7 linked regions of the Homo sapiens genome follow. The protein of the gene in region 4 purifies or fractionates together with the protein of the main gene of each other region. This does not show direct contact. Each region holds a gene or a part of one and is shown on either strand. Other genes may lie near its edges.

The links.
Region 1: the proteins of CS (region 4) and ZDHHC5 purify together in Homo sapiens (co-immunoprecipitation; one large-scale study listed by IntAct). This does not show direct contact.
Region 2: the proteins of CS (region 4) and PDHX fractionate together in Homo sapiens (co-fractionation; one large-scale study listed by BioGRID). This does not show direct contact.
Region 3: the proteins of CS (region 4) and SUCLG2 purify together in Homo sapiens (affinity purification with mass spectrometry; 2 studies listed by BioGRID, with this or other methods). This does not show direct contact.
Region 5: the proteins of CS (region 4) and SDHB fractionate together in Homo sapiens (co-fractionation; one large-scale study listed by BioGRID). This does not show direct contact.
Region 6: the proteins of CS (region 4) and STRAP fractionate together in Homo sapiens (co-fractionation; one large-scale study listed by BioGRID). This does not show direct contact.
Region 7: the proteins of CS (region 4) and CHM purify together in Homo sapiens (co-immunoprecipitation; one large-scale study listed by IntAct). This does not show direct contact.

The regions. Positions count from the first base shown.
Region 1 is NC_000011.10:57,671,114-57,674,613, forward strand, and holds part of ZDHHC5 (palmitoyltransferase ZDHHC5), read left to right. Parts: intron 1-907; 5' UTR 908-1,977; coding exon 1,978-2,081; intron 2,082-3,500. UniProt on the Homo sapiens protein: Palmitoyltransferase that catalyzes the addition of palmitate onto various protein substrates such as CTNND2, CD36, GSDMD, NLRP3, NOD1, NOD2, STAT3 and S1PR1 thus plays a role in various biological processes including cell adhesion, inflammation, fatty acid uptake, bacterial sensing or cardiac functions.
Region 2 is NC_000011.10:34,965,118-34,968,617, reverse strand, and holds part of PDHX (pyruvate dehydrogenase protein X component, mitochondrial isoform 1 precursor), read right to left. Parts: intron 1,979-3,500; coding exon 1,804-1,978; intron 1-1,803.
Region 3 is NC_000003.12:67,525,613-67,529,112, forward strand, and holds part of SUCLG2 (succinate--CoA ligase [GDP-forming] subunit beta, mitochondrial isoform 2 precursor), read right to left. Parts: coding exon 3,475-3,500; intron 2,611-3,474; coding exon 2,520-2,610; intron 1-2,519. UniProt on the Homo sapiens protein: GTP-specific succinyl-CoA synthetase functions in the citric acid cycle (TCA), coupling the hydrolysis of succinyl-CoA to the synthesis of GTP and thus represents the only step of substrate-level phosphorylation in the TCA.
Region 4 is NC_000012.12:56,283,331-56,286,830, reverse strand, and holds part of CS (citrate synthase, mitochondrial precursor), read left to right. Parts: intron 1-185; coding exon 186-236; intron 237-807; coding exon 808-915; intron 916-2,973; coding exon 2,974-3,039; intron 3,040-3,500. UniProt on the Homo sapiens protein: Key enzyme of the Krebs tricarboxylic acid cycle which catalyzes the synthesis of citrate from acetyl coenzyme A and oxaloacetate.
Region 5 is NC_000001.11:17,018,222-17,020,627, reverse strand, and holds the end of SDHB (succinate dehydrogenase [ubiquinone] iron-sulfur subunit, mitochondrial isoform 1 precursor), read left to right. Parts: intron 1-1,669; coding exon 1,670-1,747; 3' UTR 1,748-1,906; downstream 1,907-2,406. UniProt on the Homo sapiens protein: Iron-sulfur protein (IP) subunit of the succinate dehydrogenase complex (mitochondrial respiratory chain complex II), responsible for transferring electrons from succinate to ubiquinone (coenzyme Q).
Region 6 is NC_000012.12:15,885,387-15,888,886, forward strand, and holds part of STRAP (serine-threonine kinase receptor-associated protein), read left to right. Parts: intron 1-3,500. UniProt on the Homo sapiens protein: The SMN complex catalyzes the assembly of small nuclear ribonucleoproteins (snRNPs), the building blocks of the spliceosome, and thereby plays an important role in the splicing of cellular pre-mRNAs.
Region 7 is NC_000023.11:85,953,559-85,957,058, reverse strand, and holds part of CHM (rab proteins geranylgeranyltransferase component A 1), read left to right. Parts: intron 1-680; coding exon 681-906; intron 907-3,500. UniProt on the Homo sapiens protein: Substrate-binding subunit of the Rab geranylgeranyltransferase (GGTase) complex.

The sequences.
Region 1 (3,500 bases), on a different chromosome or scaffold from region 4:
ATGTGACCTCTTGAGTTCTGAACCTGAGGTGATTCAGTGGAATGTCCTCGGGCATTCTGTAGCCTTCAATTTTAAAGAGTGGGATAAGGGACTGCGTCACCAGATAATGTGAGTAAAGTGCTTTTAGATCACCAGATGAAAAGCATTTTATAAAATCCCAAGGTGCTGGTGTTAGTTTGTTATTGTCATCAACAGAAATAATTGTTACTTTTAATCATATTGGGGCAGGTGGGGCTCAGTTACCTTAGGCCAATATAGGAATAATAAACTGTTGAATTGGGAAAAAAGAACCAACCCTATGCTATGCTTATTCAGTTTCTCATAGAGGGCATCATGGCTTTCTCTGCAAGAACATTTCTTACCCAGTGTTCTAATGGGTGATTCCAAAAGACCAAAAATTCAGCTTCTACCTCTTCAGGATTGTAACTAAAAAGCATAGAGGAGCAAAAGAAACACACAGAGAAAGAAAATGAGACTTGCTTTCCTAATTTTGAGGTTAATTTTTTTCTTTTTTCACTATAACAATAAACACTCTTCTTGTCCAAAGAGAAATCTTTGTTCTAGGACTGCCCTTCACTGCTGTGCCCTTGTTTGTGATTTTGATATTCTTGGTATTTGTTACTACCATCTATGTCAGGTGAGATGGGCCCCTTACAAGAGCTAGTCCTTTGATGTCCTTTGGCCAGGTGAAGCCATGTTCTGCTTCCAATCTGAACAGAGCAAAGGATTCTCAAGTCAGTTTTCCTCTGAATTCAGAGTCCCTTCTTACCCACATACATGTAAGTGAAATGGAAAACAGTCTTTCTTTCAGAAAGTACTTTTTAACAGCAGCCTGTGGAATTTTAGCCTTGGTGTCTAAGAAATACCCTGAAAGAATTCTCTGATAAAGATACTTGTTTTTCTCCAGGTGAGACACAGTAACCTGGTTGAACTCTGCATCTGGAAAGCTGAAGACTGAAGAAAGATAAGAGACATTGACTAGTCTGGAAACAGGGACATCTTTGGAACTTCGTTTTCATCCACAGTAAACTTTTGAAGTGTCATCAATTGGAATTGATTTCTTCATCTTATTCTGCCTATTGGGAAGAACATGGCTTCAAGGATTTTAAGTTTCCCTTTAGTTTTACATGAACTTTGTAGGAAACAGAGCCCTTAAAGGGCTTGGGAATAACAAGAAGAGATTGAAGACAGAGAAGCTTGCCCTGTTTTCCTTGCCCCTTCAAAGAAAAGGATTTACAGCTCAAACTTAGAACAGCTGTTGTCCAGCTTTAGCCATCAAGAGAGAAATAAATTAAACCACCATTGCCAGACTACAAGCCCTGGTGAAGTCAGGGTGTGGGAGTGGTGGCATTGAGAAGACTACCTAAAAGAGACAAAGACTGCAGTAAACAAAGCTCCTCTTTAAAGTTGGAAGGGGCCTCAGGTTCCTTCTTGGATTGAAATAGAAATAGAAACACAGGGCACACCTCTTTTAGGTGCAGCTCACATTTTATGGAACTGTAGTCGTGGAGGTACTATAGTATCTCAGAAGAATTTTTCTTTGCCCAAAGTTTTTTTGCCATACCCTGATATTCTCTCCTTCTTTTGAAGACCTGCCTCCATCCATGAGCTGTATCTTGATCTGTCTGACTGTCCATGTTTTCCACCTGCAACCATTTGCATGTGTACAGCCTACTGTTTGTCTCCAGTTTTTAAACTGTACAAGTTGTGTTTCTTAATCTTCCCTTCTGCCTTGTTCTGGGGAGGTGGTTATTCATCATTTGGAATCACCTTTCCCCCTCCCATGTGCTTTCCTTCATTTGAGATCTTTTGACCTTTGGCTTTATTTGGGAGGGGGAAGGGTGATAAAGTTTTCTGTTTCCCTGGTTTTCTTTTGTACTCCTCTCTGTTGCTTCCCTCCTCCCATTTTCTTGTCTGTTCTGCCGCTGTGTGGGCCTGGGCTATGCGGCAGGGCAGATTTCCCATCAGAGCTCCAACATGCCCGCAGAGTCTGGAAAGAGATTCAAACCCAGCAAGTATGTCCCGGTCTCTGCAGCCGCCATCTTCCTAGTGGGAGCTACGACACTCTTCTTTGCCTTTACGTGAGTTTTCTCCCAGCAGGGGTGTTTGGGTGGGTGGATACTCCATGGGAAGTGAGGAGATAACGCTTTCTCTTGAGTTTTGCAAAGCCAAGTGACTGAGAGGGCTCAGCGTCTGGTACAGGTAAATCCAAATCCCAGAGACATGTAAGAAAAATGAGAAAAAGCCTGTCCTTTCAGTCGTGTTATCAGTTTTACTTCGCTGAATCTTCTACCTACCCTTTCCTCCTTTATTTTGGAATCATAGATGTCTTCATATTTTTCTACCCAGCTCCATCATTAGATGATCCTAAGCTAGGAAGGAAGTGGGAGGAAACCACCAGAGAGGCTTAAAGCAGTTTAAGCAGTCAATTCTATGAGAAAGAGAACTAGACTAGACTAAAGGCTTTTTTTTGGAGGCAGCGTCTCTTGCTCTGTCACTCAGGCTGGAGTGCAATGTCGCGGTCTCGGCTCACTGCAACGTCCGCCTCCCAAGTTCAAGCGATTCTCCTGCCTCAGGCTCCTTAGTAGCTAGGATTAAAAGTGCCAACCACCACACCTGGCTAATTTTTTTTATTTTCAGTAGAGATGGGGTTTCACCATATTGGCCAGGCTGGTCTCAAACTCCTGAACTCAAGTGATCCATCCACCTTGGCCTCCCAAAGTGCTGGGATTACAGGTGTGAGCCACCATGCTGGGCCGACTAAAGCCTTTTTAAATGCTAATGGCTTTTTTCCAGGATGTCTGAAACTTAGGTTTGAGATTGTGGAAACTGAGAGTATTGGAAAATTTCAGAATTGATTTATAAGATACACCAATGAGAGAGTTTTGGCTTTTAGTGCTACCCAGATGGTTTTCTTTGTACTCTTAAGAACAGAAGCCTGGAGAAGTGAAGGCCACTGAGAAAGGAAAGGGTAAGTTGTATTTGGGAAGAGAGTCCTAAAAGAGTCCCTTTATGTTAGTTTCTGCCGAGGGAATGACAGTAATTTTCCCATTACTTGGTTCTGTTGGGAAAAGCAGTTGGTATGAAAAAATTTCCCATTTAGGATCTAGGATCTGCATCATTCTCACTTTGATCTTCAGACTTTCTTCATTTACTTGTTATTGGAAGAGACTGAGTGATTTAAACCTTCCCTTTTTCCTCAGTTTTTTTTTTTTTTTTATTAAGCTCTTGACCATCTGGAAGGCATCCTTGCTGTTACCTGTTTATAAATTAACATGTACCAGGCTTCTGAGCCTTATACTGTTGAGTCATTGATTTAGTGCTCTAGTTGCAGCTCTTGGAATCATCAGAGCATGCTGGATCTTCTGGGAAGTTACTTTGTCATGGTTCAGGCTCAAACCTAGTTGTGAAGTGTTATTCAGAGCAACATGAGGTTGCTGGAAAGAGGAAGAAGTGAATTGAAGTGGTAGGGAATAAAAACACTTGGGCTCATTGAAGTA
Region 2 (3,500 bases), on a different chromosome or scaffold from region 4:
ATTTCTTACAGATTCATAATAGAAAGTATGAATGAGATAATAAAATATTCCTATAACTTCACTGTAGTTTTTCCATTCTGTTCCTTGGATCTCTCAAAAAAGCATGACAGATTTTAAATTATATCTAATTCCTTTCTTGTCCTTCACTCTATTTTGGGATTTCATTACAATCACTTCAAGATAATACAAAGCAAATGAAAGTGCGGCTGATTTCATTTTTACAAATATCATTAAGAAATTAAACATTTTATGTTAGCAAAGTACTTGGTCAAGTAGAATAAATGCTCTCTACATACCATAAGAATTTGAAAGTAAGGTTTACCTCCTTAATTTGAATAACTTTTTTTTTTTTTTTTTGAGATAGGGTCTTCCTCTATTACCCAGGCTGGAGTGCACATAGCTCACTACAGCCTCAACCTCCCAGTCTCAAGTGATTCCCCAATCTCCACCGCCTGAGTAGTTGGACTACAGGCACACACTACCACATCCAGCTGATTTTAAAATTTTTTTGTAGAGATGAGGTCTCACTATGTTGCCCAGGCTGGTCTTTGAATGCCTAGGTGCAGGCAATCCTCCCACCTCAGCCTCCCAAAGTGCTAGGATTACAGGTGTAAGCCACCACACCCAGCCTTGAATAACCTACTTTTAAAAGACATATGATTGAATTATACATATTTCATAGTCCATATACATTATATAGTCAAAGAGTGGACTATACACTCAATATACATAGTATCTTATCCAACTGCATGTCCTTAAAGAGCAGGTTATTCAAGTATGCAGTATATTAATCATTAATGGATATTTAAAAATCTGTTTCCCATGAAAGTTGTACTGTTTTCAACTCTTTTAAAATATCATATGGTATATAGTTCTCCACTAGGAGTACACATTTATCTATTTATTTTTTTAAGTGCCCATTCGATTTTAAATAAACTGGGCTATCCTACATTTCTTCTGATAGGAAGAAAATAACCTGAATAGGAAAGGCACAGAGAGGCAAAATGGAGTAATTTGAAAACAAAAAGGGGCTGTTATACTGCATGCATCTGAGAAGGAAAGAATGACTAGCTACATAGTTCTTCATAGTGAGATTATCAATTCCCTAGTTAAAAAGTAGAACATATCCACAAAAGGGAGCTAGTGTCAGCTACTAATTATTAGTATCACACTTAAGACATGAAACATGAGATTGTAGAGAATATATATGTTACTGAAGTTGTGGAACTTGTGGTAACTTTAAATTGAATTATAGTTCTAATGTTTATTTGGAAGTTAACACACAAACAAATTTTGGTTTCTGATAGGAAATCTGTAAAACAAAGCATTTGGAGTGTTTTATCCTTATCACTTAGCTACTATTGAAACGGATTAATAAAACTAATCTGTTTTAAATCTACTCTTAAAACACATAGTAATTGTTCTTATTTTCTCTCTCACACTTGAATCTGAAAAATAAAAATCTAGGCCAGGTGCGGTGATTCACACCTGTAATCCCAGCACTTTGGGAGGCCAAGGCGGGTGGATCACCTGAAGTCAGGAGTTTGAGACCAGCCTAGCCAACATGGTGAAACCCCGTCTCTACTAAAAATACAAAAATTAGGTGGGTGTGGTGGTGCGTGCCTATAATCCCAGCTACTCAGGAAGCTAAGGCAGGAGAATCACTTGAACTTGGGAGGCAGAGGCTGCAGTGAGCCAAGATTGTGCCATTGCACTCCAGCCTGGGTGACAGTGCAAGACTCTGTCTCAAAAAAAAAAAGAAAAACAAGAAAAAGAAATAAAAATCCACTTAGAGAACACTACCACTGCATTGGGTTGTCCAGGAGTTGATACTGGTGGGATCACAGGCCGGGGATAAGATGGTCCAGCTGTGGCCTGTAGGGGCGAAGGTGCTGTGGGAGTGGCTGTGGGGGCTGGAGTTGGTCTGGACTCGGTAATCTTGCCCGTTTGTTTCAACTGGACAAGTTTGAGAGCATCCCTGGAAATAAGAGCAAAGTAGATAACCATAATTAGCAATAAGGAATATAACAGAACTTTCAGAAAACGCAGGTGAGATGTGGAGAAAAGATACAGAAATATACAGATGTCAAGGTTATAATTAAAAACCAGTAATTTGAGCTAGAAAATTAAATCCTGTCTCTTACCTGGTCTGCTGACCATTATTTGTCACGTTCTAATATTTGCATATTTTCAAAAGCCAAACAATTAAAATGTTATTAAAATTGGGCATAAGTAGTGATTTTTAAAAAGGAAATTAGTCTTTTTTTCTGTGCAGTGGACGTTATTTGGTAGATGAACAATTAATTAAACCACTCTCATCCTTTATACTCATGAAATAATATTCACATGGCATTCAAAAAGTGTCAAGTTTATTGTAAATATGGCTTTCACCAGGATACTTCCTACATCATTGTTCACTTATTGTTTATTCATTGTTTATTATAGTGCAAATCAGCTTATTTATGACCAGGAAATCAAACCATTTTTAATTTTGCTAATATGCCATCAGTACAATCTAATATAACAAATCTAACCTATGATATCTTTTAGAATGAAAAATAACTAGTTACAGACTTGCCTTTGTATTACTCTGTAAAACAAAGGTATTTTTGTCTTGTAAGAGGATATAATTAGATTACTAAATATGCTAAGCCCTCAACTCACTATGCTAAGTTACAGTGGTATTAGGCAATATATTTTCTTAAAATAATTTTTGGAACATTTTAATATCCAATAAGTATTTTGGAAAGTATTTTTTCCAATTTAAGAAAAAAAATTGTTTTATATAATCTAAAAAGAACTTCAGGATGACACAAAATCTAAGGAAAAATTATTTCTCAGTTAATATTTTGGTATTATTTTTCCAAAAATTTGATGAAAGATAAAAGCTAGCACCTGTTGAGCATATTTGAGAAGACCCCTTTACTTATGGCAACATGGTAGGAAGAATTCTGAGATGGCCCCAATATTCCTGCCCCTGGTGTACATGCCCCATATCATCCCTCTTGACTGTATCTGGCCTGTGAATATGATGGATGTCACTCCCATTATTAGGTCCTATTATGTGACAAAATTGGTGGCATTTTATAGATATATGAGGCTCCAAATCAGTTGCATTTGAGTTAACCAAAAGGCAAACTACCCTGGAGAGGGCAGATATATCAGGTAATCTCTTAAAAGAAATTAGGCCTTCCTGGAAGAAGAGACTTGAAGTAAAGAGATAAAACTGCTGGCCCGGGAGAAGCAAACATGCATGTTGTGAACCGCCTATGGAGACCACGCATGGCAAGGCCCTGCACGTGGCCTCTGGGAGCTGTCAGTGGTTCTTGGCTGAGAGCTAGAAAGAAAACAAGGGCCACAGTCCTACAGTCCCAAGGAACTGCATTCTGTCAACAACCACATGAGCTTGGAAGAGGACCCCAAGCTTCACATGAGTCCCCAGCCTTGGCCAACACTTTGATTTCAGCCTTGTGAGACCATGAGTTCAGAACCTGGCCATG
Region 3 (3,500 bases), on a different chromosome or scaffold from region 4:
CAACTTATTCAAAAGTCAACTCAAAATGGATCACAAACCTAAATATAAAACATAAAACTATAAAACATCTAGAAAAAAACATGAGAAAATTTTTATTATGTAGGGCAACGTAAAGAGGACTTAGACCTGATACTAAAAAGGTATAATCCATAAAGGAAATATTGACGTATTGGACTTCATCAAAATTAAACACTTTTGCCCTGCAAATGACCCTGTTGAAAAAATGAATATATACGTTATATAGTGTAACAGATAATACTTACAAAGCACATATCCAACAGTGGACTAGTACCTAGAATAACTCAAAACTCAATAGTAAAAACATAATCTAATTAGAAAATGGCCAAAAGAAATTTGCTTTGTCTCTTCATGCTGCTGTTACAAAATACCTGAGATTTGGTCATTTATAAAGGACAAAAATATATTGTTTCACAGTTCTGGAGGCTGGGAAGTCCAAGATCAGTGCACCGCCATTTAGTGATATGGCCTTTCTTGCTTCATCCTCACATGGCAGAAAGTGGAAATGCAAAACAGGTCTAAGCTAGTTCCCTTCAGCCCTTTTATAAAGCACTACCAGGGATGTCCAATATTTTGGCTTCCCTGGGCCACAATGGCATAAGAAGGATTGTCTTGGGCCGCACATAAAATACACTAACACTAACAATAGCTGAGCTAAGAAACTAAAATTGCAAAAAAAATCTCATAATGTTTAGAAAGGTTACAAATTTGTCTTGGGCCACTTTCAAAGCCATCCTGGGATGCCTGTGGCCTGTGGGCCGTGGGTTGGACAAGCCTGCACTAATCCATTCATGAGGGCAGAGCCTTCATGACTAATCACTTCCCAAAAGGCTCTGCCTCTTAATGCAAACCACAATGGGGATTAAATTTCAACATGCATTTTGGAGGGAGCATTCAGACCATAGCATCCATGAACAGACAATTCACCAACCACAATCTACAGATGGCAAATAAGCACATGAAAAGATGTTCAACATCTTTAGCCATTAGGGAAATGCAAATTAAAATCACAATGAAATATCACTACACACCCATAAGAATGGCTAAAATAATACCACCACCACCAAATGCGGGCTAGAATGTGGAGAACCCTGACCACTTACACATTGCTGATGGCAATGTAAAATGGAACAGCCATGCTGGAAAACATTCATCAGTTTCTTAAAAAAACTAATTATACAACTTCCACATAACCCAACAATTATCCCCCAAAATGAAGATTTATATTTATACCAAAAACCTGTTCATGAATGTCTAGAGTGGCTTTATTTGTAATAGCCAAAAACGAACCAACCCAGATGTCTTTCAACAGATGATGGTTAAACAAACTGTGGTAGGTACATCCATATCATAGATTGCTACATAGCAAGAAAAAGGACTGTAACGGGATTATTACACATTGTATGCCTATATCAAAACATCTCATGTACCTTATAAATATATACACCTACTATGTACCCACAAAAATTAACAAAAGAAAATGGAACTAAATACTGATAAATACAACAACTTAAGAGTTTTCCACAAAACTCTCCCTGAAAAGTAAAAACAGGATGTCACCACTGCAGTGTCCTGCAGCATGGTGCATTGGTAGAGACCACTGATCTGTGACGCTATGTCAACAGAGCAGACAGCTGCCACCCCAAAATGCAGGACCCTAATTCGCTGTTAGGACAGGATCTTCTAACCATGGATGCTTTTCAGGGCTGACACATGTGATCTGTGTAGTTGTAAAGGGATTTAATGTTTAGCTATAGCTGTCTTGAAATTTTAACACGGGTCCCTGCCTTTTTATTTGGCACTGGATTCTGCAACCCAGGTAGCTAGTTCTAGTGTCTGGATACACAAAAGGGATGGTGAAAGGTAGATTGGCAGGAGGGAGAGTTAGGTTCTGGTCTCAGCTCTACCACTCACAATTTCATGACTGAGGCAGGCCACTTTCCTCTGGGCTTTATTTTCTATGTGTGGATGAGGGGTGTGTGTCCACATGCTATACATACTTGGGTACTTCAGCTGACCTTCCTAATGCAATATACCCCCAGCAATAAAAATGGCTCAAAATTACAGTCATCCTAAAATAAGGAATGGGGCATTTAGAAAAACAACCACAATAGGTAATTCTGACAGACACGCCTGGGGTTGAGGGCCACTGTGTGGGAGCAGCGAATGTCCCTCACTGAGTATAAGGCTGTCACAGCAAGCGCTTCTCAACTAAATAGAATGCATCTGTGTTCTCAGAGGGAAAGCCATTGCTCGGTCACTCACCCTCACCCACTTTTTGCTAAATGCTAATGATAATAAATAATATTACTATCATAGAGCCCTTTTTATTTCTCCTCCAAGACATACTACTTACTAAACAGATTAGATGAGCTTTAAAAAATAAAATGGCACACTGCCAAAGAGCAGTACTTCATTAGATTCTGTCAAAAACTGAAGGATGGTTTTCTTTTCTATTTTTTAACACATATATAGAAAATGACCCAAAGTATCCATATTACCTTGTTAACTTTCACACCTTCTTTTGGAGTTTGTTTTGTCGCTAGATTGTACCCAATCATCTGTTTAGCCAGCTGTCCCACAACATTAGGGCTAAGAGAAAGAGAAAACAAGCAGAAAATGAATGTTTGTTGAAAATCATTTAAATGAGAGTCCTTACACAGAGCCTCATGTCTACACTGCAAAGGGTTCACCTTCACCCTCACAAAATCCATGAGTCTTTCTGCTTATGTGCTGCGTGTTTAGCACTGTACTAGAGGCTCACTGAGAGCAAAATAAAAGTGAGTTCATGAATGAATAAATGAAACAAAAGATGCTTTGTGACCTCTTCACCCAAAAAAGTTACAGTCATAGTAAAGAGAGAATGCTGAAATGCACACCAGATTCAGATAAGGGTTGACTGAAGATCCGACAGTGGAAAACTGGGGAGATATTGAACAATGAGAGGGAAAGGAAGAGGGTAAAGATCAAAGTAAATAGTAAAAAGGTGTGTGACAGGAACAGGGAGGAGAGGAAAGTGTTCAGTGCTAGGAGATGCAGGAGATGAAGTTGAAAAGACAGGCTCAAATAAAGGAAGGCTTGGACTATCAGAGGGGAGGTACCCCAGATGCCACTGGTAATGGGGAGTCCCTTCAGGTCCTTGAATAGAGGAGTGACATTATGGAAGTAGCATTTCAGTTGGAAGTGGTATCATTTCCAACATTTATGATGAATCATTGATTGTTTAGGACAGAAGGACTGTCAAGTTTTCACCAATTAGTAAGAAAAATCATTTTGTGGGGGCAGAAGGAAAACTAGGGCACTGCCAGAGCCCTCTACCTATGATTTCAGTTTCTTCTAGTTGCTTTGGCCCGCTCCTACCCCACCACAACCAACCTCAGTGTGCCTTTCAATCTTGAGCAAGATCTTCCATAACTGCTTGGCCAAAAGACAAGGAATAACAACCTCCAGACTTACTCTTTTGTTAAATGAACACCTCCTTT
Region 4 (3,500 bases):
CCTCCTGCTGTCTCCATAGTGGTAACTCCTTCCAAACTGTTTGGGGACTTTTACAGCTTTCTTATGTCAAACTGCCCTAAGAGACTGAGATGAAGAGAGAGAGGTTGAGTCACTGTAATTCCTTCTTGTTAATATAAAAGAGGGAGGGGTAACAGTTACATAAGGTTCTCTTTTTTGCTTTGCAGAATGCATCTTGTCTTGTTCTTGCAGCCCGGCATGCCAGTGCTTCCTCCACGGTAAGGTTTGGAAAAGAAGACTAAGAATAAGAATCATTGCGGCCAGCCTGACCTTGGGGCAGAGGATTTGGCAACCACCTGGCCTCTTATTATCCTGAGTATTTCCTGGAAGTGTTTGTTACTATTGTTATTGTTATAGCTGCTATTATTATTATATTACTATTTAACAAATAATTTACTCAGTGGTATAGTGAGATGGGAATATCAATACATTTGCCTAATTCTTTTAAATGTTTTAAGTAGTGTAAAATATACATAACATAAAATTTACCATTTTAATCATTTTTAAGTATATGGTTTAGTGGCAGTAGATATGTTTACATTATTGTGCAACCATCCATCTCCAGAACTTTTGTCTGCCCAAACCGAGAAACTGTTCCCATTAAACATTAACTCCTCATTCCTTCTTCCCCCTGCCTAATTCTTTTACCCTCATTTGTGCAGAGTAGTTGACCAGACTTCCCTGGCAGATAAAGCCAGCTTCTAAAAAGCAAATTCTTGACACACCTACTTTGCAGGAAATCTAATAAACTTTTAGACCATTGCTTAGTCCTTCTACTTTTCTTTTTAGAATTTGAAAGACATATTGGCTGACCTGATACCTAAGGAGCAGGCCAGAATTAAGACTTTCAGGCAGCAACATGGCAAGACGGTGGTGGGCCAAATCACTGTGGACATGGTAAGGGTTGTGTGGCTTTGGCTGGGAAAAGTAGCTCTGTAATGTGCTTCAACAAAAGTAACATTCTCTCCACTGACTATTCAAAAGCATTCTGTCCCATAGGCCCTGTAGGACAGCTTTAGGATGACTTTTCCCCATCCTTCAGATTCTGAGCAGCTCAGCTGATAGTTTCTCAACAGTTTTTAGCTTATTGGTCTCCATCCCCTTCTCCTAGACTAGAACTCATTCTGTTTGTTTTGATTGGTTGGAATTTGAGGGTAGGGTATGTTGGGGAGTGGTTGAGTGGGCAGGAGAAAAAAAGTGAAATACAATAAGAAAAGGAATCAAACAGAGGGCGCAATGGCTCATGCCTATTATCCCAACATTTTGGGAGGCTGCAGTTGGAGAATCACTTGAGGCCAGGAGTTAACAACCAGCTTGATCAACAAAGGAAGATACAATCTCTATGAAAGAAAAATTTAAAAAATTAGCCAGAGATGGTGGGATGCCCCTGTAGTCCCAGCTACTGGGGAGGCAAAGGCAGGAGGATTGCTTGAGCCCAGGAGTTCAGGGCTGCAGTGAGCCATGATTATGCCACTGTAGTATAGCCTGGGCAACAGAGGGAGACCCTATCTCCAAAACAAACAAAAAGAAAGATAGTGATTTCTCAACTTAAAAAATTTCATTTCCAGGCCTGTTGCAGTGGCTCATGCCTGTAATCCCAGCACTTTGGGAGGCTGAGGCGGGTGGCTCATCTGAGGTCAGGAGTTCGAGACCAGCCTGGCCAACATGGTAAAACTCCGTCTCTACTAAAAAATATAAAAATTAGCTGGGCATGGTGGCAGGCAACTGTAATCCCAGCTACTCAGGAGCCTGAGGCAGGAGAATCACTTAAACCCAGGAGGCAGAGGTTGCAGTGAGCTGAGATTGCACCATTGCACTCCAGCCTGGGCAAGAGTGAGACTCCATCTGGGGGGAAAAAAAAAAAGATCAGCCTTGGCAACATGGCTGGCAAAACCCTGTTTTTTTTTTTTTTTTTGGGACGGAGTCTCACTGAGTCACCAGGCTGGAGTACAGTGACGTGATCTCGGCTCACTACAACCTCCGCCTCCCGGGTTCAAGCGATTCTTCTGCCTCAGCCTCCTGAGTAGCTGGGATTACAGGCCCGCACCACCACGCCCAGCTGATTTTTGTATTTTTAGTAGAGACAGGGTTTCACCATGTTGGCCAGGATGTCTCGATATCCTGACGTCGTGATCTGCCCGCCTTGGCCTCCCAAAGTGCTGGGATTACAGGCGTGAGCCACTGCACCCGGCCTAAACCCCATTTCTTTAAAAAAAAAAAAAAGAAATACAAAAATTAGCCAGACATGGTGGCACGTGCCTATAATCCCAGCTACTCAGGAGGCTGAAGTGGGTGGATCACCTGAGCCTGCAAGTCAAGGCTGCAGTAAGCCGTGATTGTGCCACTGTGCTGCAGCCTGAGTGACAGACTCTGTGAGAGGCTTAGTGATCTTCCCTCCTCCTCAGCCTCCCAAAGTGCTGGGATTACAGGCATGAGCCCCACCGTACCTGGCCACAAAGTTTGTTTTTTTTTTTCTTTTTTTTTTTTTTTTTTGAGATGGAGTTTTGCTCTTGTCACCCAGGCTGAAGTGCAATGGTGTGATCTTGGCTCACTGCAATCTCTGCCTTCTGGGTTCAAGCGATTCTCCTGCCTCAGCCTCCCAAGTAGCTGGGATTACAGGCACATACACCATGCCCGCTAATTTTTTAATTTTTAGTAGAGACATGGTTTCACCCTGTTGGCCAGGCTGGTCTCAAACTCCTGACCTCAGGTGATCCACCTGCCTCGGCTTCCCAAAGTGCTGGGATTACAGGTGTCAGCCACTGTGCCTGGCCACAAAGTTTAATTCTTTAGTAAGCTGACTCCTCAGACATCTCTCACCAAATGAAGTCTTACAAGTCTGAGAATAAATTTTCTCTCCCAGATCCCATGAAGCTCTAACAAGTTCTAGTCTGAATCATTCTGATTACTGGCCACAGCCTCTTTTTTTTTTCCTTCTTTCTTCATCCTCTTTAGATGTATGGTGGCATGAGAGGCATGAAGGGATTGGTCTATGAAACATCAGTTCTTGATCCTGATGAGGTAAGACATCTTCATGTCAATTACTAATAATCATTGAGTTTGTGCAAATACGCAAACCGTGGATTAGACCAGTAAGGGTAAGCACAAAACAGAGCACCTAGCTTCATATATTGGAAGGTAGAGAAGACATATGTATGGAATAATTGAAGAACAAATTTACCTTTTAAATATATCAACTAGTAAAAATAAAAGTACAAAACCAGAGGTAAGTTATGTGAAGATTTAAGCTTAATTTAAAGTTCTGTTCTGGACTGGGCGCAGTGGCTCACACCTGTAATCCCAGCACTTTGGGAGGCTGAGGCGGGCAGATCATGCGGTCAGGAGGTTGAGACCGTCCTGGCTAACACGGCGAAACCCTGTCTGTACTAAAAACACACAAAATTAGCCGGGCATGGTGGCAGGCACCTGTAGTCCCAGCTACTCGGGAGGCTGAGGCAGGAGAATGGCGTGAACCCAGGAGG
Region 5 (2,406 bases), on a different chromosome or scaffold from region 4:
GCATCTTCAGTGGTGGGGCCTGGCTGTGTGTTTCTTCAGAAGCTCTGCGAGTGACTCTAAGGTGCATTCCTGGTCACAAACCTGTGCATGGAGGGGATGGGTGCAGCAGACAACTGAGACAGCCAAGAACAGGTTCTCTGTGCCTTGCCCTCCCTTCTGTAAAACAGGGCTGGAAGTTGGGACTGAGACATAGACATAGGCCGATCATGAAACTGGAAGGGACTTGAAAACCATCAAGTTTAATCCCCTTATACAGATGGGGAAATTGAGCCCCAGGTGGGGAGGGGAGTGACTCGCCCCAGATCACTGTCAGGTCAGTGGGAAGGTAGGACTAGAGTTAGGCCGTCTGCCTCCCCATCCAGTGCTCTTTCTTCCTGCATGGATTGGGTATGTACCAACCTTCTAAGTCTAAACACCCTTACTGACCCTGTGGGGACCGGAAATACACAGGTAGATCCAGATTCAGAAGGATATACAGTGAAAATTCTCCCTCCCACTCCACCCAGCCACCTCCCTAGAAGTCAGATTCTTGTGTGAACTTCAGAGGTGTTTTATGCTGCACACAAATGCATATGTGTCCTCTTCTGTCTTTCTTATATCACATTTATCTGTATTTTTTCACCCACTATATTTTGGAGATTATCCCATGTTGGTATATGAAGAGTGTCTTTTTGACCAGCCTGGACAACATAGTGAGATCCCATCTCTACAAACAAAATTTTTTTTAATTAGCCAGGTGTGGTGGCACGCACCTGTAGTTTCAGTTACTTGAGAGGCTGAGGCCGGAGGATCACTTGAGCCAGGTGTTCCAGGCCACAGTGAACTATGATCACACTTCAGCCTGGATGACAGAGCAAGACCCTGTCAAAAAAATATATATTTTTTCTTTCTCTTCTTCTCTCAAGATCTCTTTTCTTTCTTTCCTTTTCTTCTTTCTTTCCACAACACTTTTTTAGGGGGGTAGACTTATCCTTCTAAAATGAGGGGAACCTTCACTAACGTCAGATGAGTACTTGTCTCATTTTACCAAGTACTTGCTTGGTAAAAGCAAGTACTTGGTAAAGTACTTCCTACTTTCTACTTCAATGAAGCTGGCATTCAGTGGGTTTAATTATTGTGCCTCCTGCAAAGCAGATGTTAACAGCTGTAGGGGCAAACTGCAGCTAATACCAATGGTATTGGCCAGTTGAAATCATCATGGTTTTACAAAGGGTTAATAGAGAGGGTAGTTTCTTCCACATACTTTTGAGAGCTGGTATATGCTGATTTCTGCTGCTGCCTATTTAATAATGATGATGTAAAAGATTTAGAGATGTCTGGCTGATTTTGACATTGGCCTGTAGTCCTAGAAGAGACACTACCCTGAGTGTCTTTGAGCAGTCAGAGAGTGCACCTCTGCCCTGGGCCTGTTTACCTGTTAGAGTGAGCCACACAAGAAGGAATTCAACGTGGCAGAGCTCTTGCCAGAGGGAGCTGACCATCTTCAAATGTTAAAAAAGGTAGACAGAAGAGAGCCCTTAGCCCAACCCCTATGGTTTTGAGGGACTTGATTTGCATTCACCTTGCTTGGACACTGAACCAGCTGAGGAAGGAGTTTCACCCAAGATTGTGGGTTTTCCCTTTCAGTTTCAGTTATCATTTGTTATTGATTCTTTTCTCTTTTTTCAAGGGTCTGAATCCAGGGAAAGCTATTGCAGAGATCAAGAAAATGATGGCAACCTATAAGGAGAAGAAAGCTTCAGTTTAACTGTTTCCATGCTAAACATGATTTATAACCAGCTCAGAGCTGAACATAATTTATATCTAATTTGAGTTCCTTTAAAGATCTTGGTTTTCCATGAATACAGCATGTATAATAAAAATTTTAAGAAATAAATGTTATTCTACTTTATTAACAAAAAAAAAAGAACCTGTTCCTTTACTTGCCGCAGGGGAATGTGAAGGTGCCAGGAGTCCTTGTCCTTGGAGAGATGGACAGGGCTTCAGAGCTGAGCGGGGGTGGGGGTACCCTAGCTGGAAGGAGGTGATGAGCCGTGGAACTGACATCAGCAGGGCCTGCAGCTTGTTCCCAGCTTTGCCACTCACCAGCTAGACAACCTTGGACAAGTTCCTTCACCTCTTTGCTGCTCCATTCGCCCATCTGTAAGATGGGATCCATAATTGTGCCTACTTCATTCATCTGGTATGAGAATGCCTGGCACTTATTCTGAACACTCAGTTAGTGTTAGTGTTCTGTATCTTCCCAGTTTCTATAGTTTTCAGTACCAGAATTACTGAAAACCAAATCTTGGTAAGTCTTTGGATACGTCGGTGAGGCCAGGTTTGAGATTCCTCCAGCACAGAGCAATGACCCTGGTCAGTTGTGAATCCAGTTAGTTCCACAAATGACCTCGTGGGGCCTCTCAC
Region 6 (3,500 bases), about 40 Mb from region 4:
CCATGTTGGCCAGGCCGGTCTCGAACTCCTGACCTCAAGTGATCTGCCCGCCTTGGCCTCCCAAAGTGCTGGGATTACAGGTGTGAGCCACCGTGCCTGGCCTTTTTTTTTTTTTTTTTTAACAACCTCACACTAAGGAGCAATTGTAAATCTGCTGCCTCCTTCATTTTAAGTACATTAAACATACCAATTTTAGAATGAAAAAATGAAGGCTGATTGACTGTGGTGGCAGATACGTGACTGTATGCTCTTGTTTATTGAAACAGTGTTGTTTTTATGCTTTCTTAACATTTCAAGTCTCAATGTCTGTGTTTACAAGTGGTGTATTAAGAGCATGAAGGCTGGAGCCAGATGACCTGAATTTGAATTGGTGGCCTCATGCACTTTATTTAACCATTTTTTTTTCTGTCATGGTACCTAATTCATAGGTTGGTTTTGAATATTAAATAAGTTAATATGTTTCGAATACTTACAACATTGCCTGAAGTCTATTACACCTATGAAAGTGTTACATATGTAAAGTAACGATGATAGCTACCATGTAAACTATCACCACCCGCACTTGATCAAAATCACATATTATTTTGAAACTAATATGGCTAAAGCCTTCAAACTATTTGGCCTCATATAAGGAAGATTGAATAGATTTAAATGTCAAGAAGGAAGATTTTTGTGATTTTTTTTTCCCCCTCCTCAGTTAAGGCTTTAGGTGCTGTGTTAGAGTGGAAAATAATAACAAGCATTGGCACTAGGTGGGCTTGCATTCGTGTGCTAACTATGCTGTGTATTTCCAGTTTGATCATCATAGGATTTTTTTTTTTTTTTGAAACAGGGTCTTAGGTGCCTAGGCTAGAGTGCAGTGGCGTGATCATAGCTCACTGCAGCCTCTATCTCCCAGTCTCAAGCAGTTCTCCAACCTCAGCCTCCTGAATAGTGACCACAGGCGTGTACTACCATGCTTGGCTAATCTTTGTGTTTTTTGTAGAGATGGGCTTCACCATGTTGTCCAGGTTGGTCTTGAACTCTTGGGCTCAAGCGATCTGCCCACCATGGCAGGATGTTTCTTAAATGTCGGCTTTCATATCTGTAAAATGGGACTAAGACCCATGAGATTATTGGAGGAACAGAGAGATCTTTCTCCACCATATATCCCTGAAGTCCAATATGATCTCTGTCACATAGTAGGTGCTCAATAAATGCTAGTTGAGATTTATCCCTCATTTCCTCTATGTCTTGTCTGTGGGGTGTAGGAGCGTGTTTTCATGTGCGTGTTTGTGTGTGTGTGTATTCTCTCCAAGAAGTTACTCCCCACAGCCTACCTGATTAGTCATGGTTGGTATAAAGCATTTTTAGAAACAATTTTTTTTTCCCTCCATTCTTACGTTTCTTGGAAAACTCATTTATGGTGTGGTCATTTAGAAGTGGAATTTGGTCCCGTTTCTTGTGGAGAAATTTAGCAGAATAGGTCTGTGGACTAGTGTAGAATGTTATCTTGGAGTAATTCGGGCAATTGAGTCCAGTGTTGAGTACAGTGTCCCTAAAACACCATCTCTTTGTATCTATTTGGGAAGAGTGCCAAAGTAAAGACAATTCTGTGCTGTGCTCCCAAGAGGGCTTAAGTAGATCTGGGATTGGGTCCAGGAATTTATAGGTAATCACAATGTATCACTCTTTCTTTCTTGTAAAGCCAATAGAAATATCTAATTTTAGTTTTAATAAGGTTCTTGATAAATCGAAAATGGTATTATCTCCTAGATGACTTGGTCAACATGTTAAGGTATTTGGGCAATTTTTTAAAAATCTTAAACTGGCCTGTTTTGTTGAAGGTTTAAATAAGTAAGTTAAGCAGCTCCTATTATGAGACTTACGGTAAGTTCATTCTGAGGATATGGAAAGTATCAGGCAGCATTATTATTTGCAAGAAACTGGGGTATAAGAGGTAACAGTAGTTTAAGGAGATGACAAGTACTTCGTGGGATGTGAAGAAAATGTTGGAGGGTTAGCTGCTGAAAGGGTATTGTTAATAGCGCTTTACTGTCTTGATTTGAGCCCTGTGGCCAACTAATATATGTCAATTTCTTGCCTGGAGATTGAATAATACATTAGGAAACATTTAGATTAGATCCATTTTAGGGCTCTTACTGTGAATAATGGAAATCTGCCAGAGTTAGTACATGCCCTGTCAGAAAATGTCATGCCTCTATTTTAGTACTGTTTCTAAATAGGAGGAAAAACTACAGACACATTACCTCTCTGGTTAATATTACTACTTTGGTCACTCCAACTCTCTTCTCACCTTTGAATAGACACAGTCTAAGCAGAATCTTAAGATTTTAGAGCTGCCATGTTGGCGTTAGCCTGTAGCTACTTAGGAGGCTGAGGTGGAAGGATCTTGAGGCCAGGAGTTCAAGTATAGCTTGGGCAATATACCAAGATCCTGTCTCAAAAAAAAAAAGAGAGAGAGGTTTTAAGTTTATGGGAGATTATTTAATAAACTTGAAATTAGCATATCAAAGGACATTGCCCGGGTTTCTTTGGAGACTTGTGAATAATTAGAATAGTAATTTTAGATACATTTGTTGTTTTCTTCACTTTTGATGCTTTCTGTCATTCTAATACTTGTGAACCCTTACCACAACCATGAAATGCATTTCACTGTGATTAAGGATATATGTAAACAAAAAACAAAGCAAATTTAAGCACCGTAATAAGTGGAGTTCTGTGGGAGAACAGAAAGGAATGGTTAATTATTGGAGTTGAGGATAAATAGTTTCAAAGAAAAGATAGCATTTGAAATGAGCCCTAAGGGTGAGTAGAACTTTAATAGCTAAGAATGTAAAATACAGACTTAAGAGAATAATATAAACAAGAACATAGGAGCCTGGAAGAAAATACGTAAGTTATTTGAGGAGTGGTTTATAATCTAGTGTTGCTAGATTCAGAGAAACAATACAAAATGAGGTTGGGAAAGTAGATTGGGGCCAGAGAGTTGCATTGGAATGACAGAGAGAGGAGCAAGTTTCCTGGGCAAAGAGAAATGAATACTAGGGAGTTTAGCAGCAAGGCTACTTATAGTTGACATTATTTCTTTCAGAACATATTTATTCAGCCACTCACATGACCCACATTATTAAATATTGCAAGCTTTGGTAGTGTATCATGAGCATTCCTGTTAGATGGTCTTTCATATTCATTAACCACATTGCACATGCTATTAATGCTTATCTAGAATAGCCTTCCCTTCTTTTTCCCCTGATATATTTCTCTTTGCTTCTTCCGACGGCTAGCTCTGTTACTTACATTTTCTGGACAATATCTAGGTGCTTTTTTCTGAGTTTTTATAGCCATATATATGTCTTTTAATTATATTTCTTAAATGTGATATTTAATGCATGTTTTTCTCCTCAGCTAAAGCTCTACTATGGCAAGAACCTACTGTGGGGTATTTTTTGTCTCCCATTTGTGCCTTAGCACTAAGTATAGAATGATATATATTTAAT
Region 7 (3,500 bases), on a different chromosome or scaffold from region 4:
TAAAATTCAATTCTCTCAGTAAATTTTCATAATTTTTATTTATGTAAATTATTTCTGTAAAGTTTTTGTCTTTTATCATGGGATTTATTTCCCACCACTAACAGTCCAATTACATTATATTCTGTTCTTGGTTTAAAGGAGTAACTTCTGGGGGTCCCGTATGTTTTGATGTGATTATGTGGCCATAAGACTGATTCCAGTAGCCACATGGAAATTCATTTCATTATTTTTTAGTTTATTTTCTGAGTATCAGTGAGAAGTATACGTTTTACAAAACTCACATATTTATCATTTTAAATCAATACATTCCCATGTTGTCATAGTTGTTTAATATTTTCAGTACCATTATTGGCATTATCCTGCAGGTTTCATGATAATAAAGTGAGATTATTGCCAACTATGACAACCCATTGAGTTATTTAATATTTTCTAGTTTTTTTTAAATCCATGAAATGCTCAATCATAATTCATCATTTAAAGCTAAAAATTGTGCCATTACTCCAAATAAGAGAGAGAGATTGTTTCCATTTTTTCCTAAGATCAACCATCAGTGTCCAAAATGTAATACCACCTATGTCCTTTGTGAGGTCTGTGAAACACACTTCATCTCCTTTTTGTGGGGTGGTTTTAAATAGAAGTTTAGTTCTGATTTTAAGTGATAAAATTTCATCTTTTCATAGGATATGAAGAGATCACATTTTATGAATATTTAAAGACTCAAAAATTAACCCCCAACCTCCAATATATTGTCATGCATTCAATTGCAATGACATCAGAGACAGCCAGCAGCACCATAGATGGTCTCAAAGCTACCAAAAACTTTCTTCACTGTCTTGGGCGGTATGGCAACACTCCATTTTTGTTTCCTTTATATGGCCAAGGAGAACTCCCCCAGTGTTTCTGCAGGTAAGTTTGCCATTGATTTTCTTGTCCCTTCTAAAAGTGATACTTGAATAACAGATGAAAATTAGGCAGGCAAAAATGAGATTTATTCAAGATTTAGTATATGCAAATATATACTTTATTCTATTTATTTTTTATAATCTATTTACCTACCTATCTACCCACCTAAGTGATATATTCAGTGTGGCCTCTTTTTGAGCTTGATAAAAATACTATAAATTCCTTTTTCCACTCAATAGCATGATGGAAAGTATTGTCATTGCATATAATTTTAGTTAATTTTTTATTACTATATAGTATGTTATTGTGAATACACCACAATCTATTTTTTCATTTTTCTGTTGATGAACACAGGATGTTTCCAGTTTTTTGAGGTTAACACCCTTGTGTATGTTTCAAGTTGTGTATGTTCAAGAATTTCTCTCGGAAACATATCTAGGGGTGGAATTCCCCAGTCCTGAGATACATGAATGTTAACACTTTACAACATCGTGTTCAGTTATTTCTCTAGAGGGCTGTACCAATTATAACCTTTTAGCCGTACATAAGAATACCCAAAGCTTTACATGTTTGCCAACATTTAAAATTTTTTTGTCAACCTAACTCACATAAATTATCATTGCATTGGATTTTTATTTTTCATTTCCCTAATTACCTATGAAGTTGAACCTTTTCTCATATGTTTACTGGCCATTCATGTTTTATCTTCAGGGAATACTTGTTTGTGTCTTTTTTTGTTTGTTTTACACATTTTTAAAAATTTTTATTTTTTGTGGGTACATAGGAGGCATATGTGTTTGTGGGGTACATGAGATAGTTTAATACAGGCATGCAAAGTGTAATCCATCATGGTAAATGGAGTATCCATCCCTTCACACATTTATCCTTTGTGTTGAAAACAATCCAATTATACTCTTCATTTTAACATGTACAATTAAATCATTATTGACTGTAGTCACTCTGTTGTAATATCAAACACTAGATTTTATTCATTCTTTCTAACTACGTTTTGTACCTATTAACCATTCCTACTTATCCGCTGCCCCCTCAAAACCCGCCCCAGGCTCTGATAACCATCCTTTTACTCTCTGTCTCCATATGTTTAATTGTTTTAATTTTTAGCTCCCGCAAGTAAGTGAGGATATGCATTGTTTGTCTTTCTGTGGCTGGCTTATTTCACTTAATATAATGACCTCCAGTTTCATCCATGTTGTCATGTTGTTGCAAATGTCAGGGTCTCATTCTTTTGTTTTTTTTTTTTTGGGAGATGGAGTCTTGCTCTGTCACCCAGGGTGGAGTGCAGTGGTGTGATCTCGGCTCACTGCAACCTCTGCCACCCAGGTTCAAGTGATTCTCCTGCCTCAGTCTCCTGAGTAGCTGGGATTACAGGCACGTGCCACCACACCTGGCTAATTTTTGTATTTTTAGTAGTGATGGAGTTTCAGCATCTTGGCCAGGCTAGTCTTGAACTCCCGACTTTGTGATCCACCCATCTCAGCCTCCCAAAGTGCTGGTATTACAGGCGTGAGCCACCATGCCCAGCCAGGATCTCGTTCTTTTTATGGCTGAGTATTACTCCAAGGTGTAACTGTACTACATTTTCTTTATCCATTTATCTGTTGCTGGGCACTTAGGTTGCTTCCAAATCTTGGTTATTGTGAACAGTGCTGCGACAAATGTGGTATGTAGATATCCCTTTGATACACTGATTTCCTTTCTTTTGGGTATATACCTAGCAGTGGGATTGCTAGATCGTATGGTAGCTCTATTTTTACTTTTCTGAGGAACTTCCAAACTGTTCTCCACAGTGGTTGTACTAATTAACACTCCCACCCACAGTGTTCAAGGGTTCCCTTTTCTCCGTATCTTTGCCAGCATTTGCTAGTGTCTTTCTTTTGAATAAAAGTTATTTTAACTGGGGTAATAAAATATCTCATTGTAATTTTGATGTGCATTTCTCTGATGATCAGTGATGTTGAACACCTTTTTATATGTCTCCTTGTCATTTGTATGTCTTCTTTTGAAAAATGTCTATTCAGATCTTTTGCCCAATTTTTAGTCATATCATTAGATTTTTTTCCTGTAGAGTTGTTTGAGCTACTTATATATTCTGGTCATTAATTCCTTGTTAGACGGGTAGTTTGCAGATATTCTCTTTCATTCTGTGGGTTGTCTTTTCACTTTGTTTATGGTTTCTTTTGCTGTGCAGAAACTTTTTAACTTCATGTGTTCCCGTTTGTCCATTTTTGCTTTAGTCGCCTGTGCTTGTGGGGCATTGCTTAAGAAATCTTTGCCCAGACCAGTGTCTTGGAGGTTTTCTCCGATGTTTTCTTGTAGTAGTTTCAAAGTTTGAGGCATTAGATTTAATTCTTTAATCCATTTTGATTTGCTTTTTATATACTGCAAAAGATAGGGGTCTAGTTTCATTTTTCTGCATACAGATATCCAGTTACCCCAACACCCTTTATGGAAAAGACTGTCTTTTACCCAGTGTATATTCTTGGCACCTTTGTCAAAAATGAGTTCACTGTAGGTGTGTGGATTTGTTTCTGGGTTCTCTATTCTGTTTTTTTGGTTTATGTGTCTGTTTTTATGCC